2 separate regions of the Homo sapiens genome follow, and region 2 is linked to region 1. The links come from fine-mapping of genetic effects on gene expression. Tissue or cell type: blood mononuclear cells. Region 1 holds a variant in brackets; the other region holds the start of a gene. All regions are shown on one strand. Distances are between the middles of the regions.

Region 1 (2,686 bases):
AGTCTCGAACTCCTGACCTCGGGTGATTCACCCGCCTCGGTCCCACAAAGTGCTGGGGTTACAGGCGTGAGCCACAGTGCCCAGCCTTCATTTCTTTTTATGACTGAATAATATTCCATTGTATATCCCACAGTGTGTTTATCCAGTCATCTGTTGATGGATGTTTAGGTTGTTTTCACCTTTTGGCTGTTGTGAACAGCGCTGCAGTGAATATTTGGGTACCAGTTATATTTGAACACTGGTTTCTAATTCTTTTGGGTATATGCCTATGGGTTGGATTATGGGTCATGTGGTAATTTTATGTTGGACTTTTTGAGACACCTTGGAGGTTTGCTTTTGCTTGGTGGTTGCTGCCTGGAGATGACTGCAGTATTGAGTCTTTGGCCCCAGGGCATGGACCAGCCTGAGGAGGGAGGGAGGGTTGGGGAGAAAGCCAGGAGGGCAAGAGGTGACCTTTTGCTAGGGTAGCTAGGCCTTAACTGTAAGACCTTATTATTTTGCACAAGAAGTGTGAGATACGTTTTTACTTTTAAAAACCTGAAAGCATTTAGCCAGGTGTGGTGGCACGTGCTTGTAGTCCCCGCTACTTGGGAGGCTGAGGTGGGAGGAACTCTTGAGCCCAGGAGGTGGAGGTTGAAGTGAGCTGAGATCTTGACACTGCACTCCAGCCTGGGCCACAGAGCCAGACCCTATCTCAAAACAAACAAACACAAAAAACCTGAAAGGTACAGAAGTACCTAGTGTGAAAAATTAGTTTCTCCCCTTTGCTCACAGTCCCACTCCCACAGTTTTGTGTGAATCCTTCCAGACCTCAGCCGGGCACGGTGACTCAAGCCTGTTACCCCAGCACTTTAGGAGGCCAAGGCGGGCAGATCACTTGAGATCAGAAGTTCAAGACCAGCCTGGCCAACATGGTGAAACCCCCTCTCTACTAAAAATTCCAAAAATTAGCCAGGCATGGTGGCACGCACCTGTAATCCCACCTACTCAGGAGGCTGAGGTGGAAGAATTGCTTGAACCCGGGAGGCGGAGGTTGCAGTGAGCCAAGATTGCACCACTGCACCCCAGCCTAGGCCGCAGGGCAAGACTCTGTCTCAAAAAAAAAAAAAAAAACACACAAATCCTTCCAAACCTAGATGTGTTTTCATAGCTGGGAAAATTTATTTTCATTTATGGGGGGAAAATGAATCATAGATTACACCCCTACACACTACCCAGTGAACAAAACTGCCAGATTCCCTCTCTTCCTTCCTTTTCCATTCTTCCTTTTTCTTCCCCATCTAATGGCAATTCCATCGTACTTTTTCTGTTTTCTTTCACTGTCACTTCCGGACCCTGAGCCTGAGCCTGTCCCTGAGAAAACAAGGTTTCTCACTGGTGAGTGGTTTTCCTCTGTCCTCTGAGCCCCTCCTGCCCCTGGCCCACTGCCTGTTGTCTGTGAAAAGCAGTGGAAGGTGAGGCTGATAGATCTGACTCTTACAGTAAAGTTCTGACTTC[T/C]GGTTTCTGTAGGTGGGGCCACATCCTGTGCTGACCTTCGTGCTGGCCCCTGTCCTCCTCCCTAGGAGAAGTGTCTGGCAGGAGGTGGTCGCATGGCCTTTCTTTCAGGGGGGTGGGAAAGCCCCCGTCTCTGGCTCTGGTCCTCCTGCAGAGCAGGGTCCCTTAGCTCTGTGAGTCAGTCATGCTGTGCTGAGCTTACCTGTGAAAAGGCCCATCTCCTTACTACAGATTGTTTTTTTTTTTGAGACGAGGTCTCACTCTGTCACCTAGGCTGGAGTGCAGTGGCATGATCTTGGCTCATTGCAACCTCTGCCTCCTGGGTTCAGGTGATTCTCGTGCTTCAGCCTCCTGAGTAGCTGGGATTACAGGCACACACCACCACATCCAGCTCATTTTTTTATTTTTAGTAGAAACGGGGTTTCACCATGTTGGCCAGGCTAGTCTCAAACACCTGACCTCAAATGATCTGCCTGCCTCGGCCTCCCAAAGTGCTGGGATTACAAACGTGAGCCACCACACCTGGCCCTTACTATAGATTTTTAAAATTACAATTATTATACTCACTTGTAAAGTGAGATCCAAAGAATAAAATAAAAATCCTTTTCCCAATCCCAGGTAACCCCTGGGAACAGTTTCTTCTGAATTTGATCTGGTGTATTTTTCTGGAATTGTTCCATGGATATACAAACACAGTTGATTCTCATTACGGGTTCTGTTCTTGCGAATTTGCCTACTTGCTAAAACTCTTTTGTAGGCCGGGTGCAGTGGCTCACGCCTGTAATCCCAGCACTTTGGGAGGCCGAGGTGGGTGGATCACCTGAGGTCAGAAGTTCGAGACCAGCCTGGCCAACATGGGGAAACCCCTTCTCTACTAAAAATACAAAAAAATTAGCCGGTTGTGGTGGTGGGCACCTGTAGTCCCAGCTACTCGGGAGGCTGAGGGAGGAGAATTGCTTGAACCTGGGAGGCAGAGGTTGCAGTGAGCCAAGATCGCGCCACTGTACCACAGCTTGGATGACAGAGTGAGACTCTGTCTCAAAAAAAAAAAAAAAAAAAAAAGTGGCGGCACTTTCGTGGTGCTTTGCAAACACGCACAGAGCTGTGTGTCCCATATGGATTGACCCATACCCATATTCCAAGCTGAGACCCAGTAAGAAGCACTCTGTCTTCTTCTTTCACCTCTCACACT
Region 2 (2,686 bases), 37 kb before region 1:
CATTTATTCAGTTTATTTTTAGGTATCTTACACTTTTAAAATGGTTCGTTTGTTTTACATTAAAACTGCTCTTCAAGGTCCAATTGAAGCTTATCAAAGCTGATTTAATTTTTTTTTCCCAGGTGTGTCTTTATGTGCAGGAAAGCAGTCAGAAACTAAAGGCTCTTCAGTCACAGTTGTTTACTGAGTGTTCACTTAATACCTGGTGTAGTGATTATCCCTTTACACGCATTATCTCCTTTAATTTTCAGCAGGTTGGTTTAACTTTTATTTCCATTTTACACACGAGGCTCTGAGTTTGAGGAACTTGACAAAAATCACCCAGTTGGTAAGTGGATTTGATTCCAAATTTGTGAATCTCCAAAACTATCACAAAAATCAATCAGCCAAGAAGGATAGCCCAATGCTATGCCATCAGATGGGCTGACTCAAAAGGATGACTTTCCAAAAGCAAGCAATTGAATTAAAAAGACAATGTTTTCCATCCACCGGACCCGGCAAAAAAAGACTGGTTTTCCTCCAATGTGAGGCATAGTTCATATTCTGCAGGAGCACAATAATACCAGTGACTTAGGCTCCTTTAGAATTAGGGACTCGTGGGTGAACAAGGGTGGTTTTTCTGCAGCTTTCACTGGAATTGTCCGTTTGGAAATCTACCTCCCCATGGCAGGGCGGGTTTCAAAGAAGAGGAGAACAAACAAAAAACAAAAACAGGAAAAAAAAAAAAAGAGAGAGAGAAAGAAAAACAGGTGGAACCGACGTAAGGATGGCTAGAGCAGTGCGCGCGGAAGGCAGAACTTTCTGGGGGCGTCCTGTCCGCACGTTTCACGCGTGGTGCGCGCAGGTGGCGCCGCGGTCCCTTTGCTCCCTGCGCAAGCCGGAGGGGTGCCCAGAAGGCTACCACTAGCCTCAGCGAAGGTGAGAGAGAAGCTTTCCGCCGAAGCGAGGGAGGAGGGCGGGCAGGAAGCGGAGCCAGAGCTGGCAAAGAAAGGCTCCAATTCCCAGCCCCCCGCCCCGCGGGGCGCGGGGGCGCCGGCAGCGCATGCGCGAGGCCCGGCCCCCAATTCCCCCAGCGAGGGAGGGAGGCCCCCGGCGGCCGGGAGCCTGCGAGCCGCGGCGGGACCCGAGCGCACGCAGGGGCGCGGCGACGGCGGGGGCTAGTCGGGCTGCGGAGGCGGCCGTCGGGAGTGCGGAGCGCCTCGGACGAGGGTCCAACCGCCGGCAGGCACCAGAGGGCACGGCTGGCTCGGCACTGGGAGGGGCCCGGCGCTCGCAGCCCCCCACGCCCAGAGAGGATGCGTGAGTTTCGCCCCGGCTCGAGGGCAGGATGTGGGAGCAGGACAAAGGCTGGGCGGCGGGGGAGGAGTTGGGGACGGCGAGCCTGTGGCCGCCGCCAGAGCCCCAGCCTCGAGCGAGCTAGCGGAGTTGACAACTTTCTCTGCAACTTTTGCAAAAGGGAAGATAAAAATTCTGCAAGTTGTTGCACAGCTCCATATCGCCCCGTGTCCGGCGAGCAGAGGGGAGGGGGCACCGCAGCCTTCCGCGGACCAGAGGCGACCTCCAGCTCCTCTGAGCGGCGCAGGAGGGGGCGCCCGCCGGGGCCCGGGGCCAGGGGCGAGAGAGGATAGGGACACCGGGGGTCGGAGCCCGGGGTACGCTCTGGCCGCTGAAGTTGCCCGTGTCCACGCAGGGTGCGCCCTGAGAGCCGGGTAGCCTCGGATAGCGGCGCTGCGTACGCGATGATGGATGAGCCGTGGTGGGAAGGGCGCGTCGCCTCGGACGTCCACTGCACCCTGCGCGAGAAGGTCAGTCCCTCCCTGCCCTTGTCACTCTCAAGACTGGGTACAGTCTCCTTCGGTCTCGACTTCGTGTTCTCAGGTCGCCTGCGTGGGAACTCAGAACTCCCGGGTGCCTTTTTTTCCTCTTACCCTTTACCTTCTCCCGGAGTGTCTGAGCGGAATTGGGGGGCGGGGGTTAGAGACTGGAGATGGGAGAGATTGAAGTTGGTTTTTCTGATAAGGAGCTCAGAACTCTGGGCCAACTAGTCAGAGACAGCCACTGTACCTCTAAGGCAGTGTTTCCTATAGTATTGCCACCCTAGGTTATTTTAAACCGTACGTGAAGGGGTCTTTAAAAAATATTGTGTATTCATTCTAATGTGTAATTTAAGAATGTGTATGTATCTAGCAAGCTCTGCGTTTGCGATTTTCCATTTATTGTAATAATGATGTCGCAGTTTATTTTAAAACAAATTTAAGTAAAAGTAGTAACTCTATATAAAGATAAGTGGTAGTACAGGGAATACATGGTTATGGCCAAATACGTGTATCTATGTGTATATCTAGAATGGGACCGAATGAAATTTAAGGAACACCTGTATAATTGAAAGAGGCTACAAAACAGGGAGGCTGAGGGAAGAAAACAAAAACTCCCCTGCCGGTTTGCCTCCTGTGGCAGAAGGTGGGTGGGAGCAGCTGAAATGTGATCCCTGCACACCCCTCCCCTCAAGGAGAGAAGGGCTGAGGGGCATTGGGAAGGTGGAAGAGTCCAGGTGGGCTGGAGGCATGGCCTGTGTGTCTTGCCTCCAGTCCCTGGGCTGAGATTGGCAAGGGGTGGCTTGGGGAACAGGTGTGAAGTAGTGAATGGATTGGTTTCCTAGGGCTGCCATTACAAAGGACCACACAAA

Evidence for each region. PIP is the estimated chance that this variant, and not a neighbour inherited with it, causes the effect.
Region 2: CCNJL starts here. The variant in region 1 is fine-mapped to the expression of CCNJL in blood mononuclear cells (TOPMed, PIP above 0.99).

The regions. Positions count from the first base shown.
Region 1 is chr5:160,273,513-160,276,198 of GRCh38, reverse strand. All of the region lies in intron 3 of CCNJL (cyclin J like), which reads left to right. Among named protein-coding and RNA genes, the nearest start is that of CCNJL, 38 kb to the left of the region's middle. The variant T/C (reference allele first, on the strand shown) is at 1,498.
Region 2 is chr5:160,310,977-160,313,662 of GRCh38, reverse strand. It overlaps CCNJL (cyclin J like), which reads left to right and starts at 1,099. Exons shown (of 6, transcript NM_001308173.3): 1 at 1,099-1,299; 2 at 1,691-1,805. The coding sequence starts at 1,740. RefSeq lists silencers at 881-940, 1,051-1,170.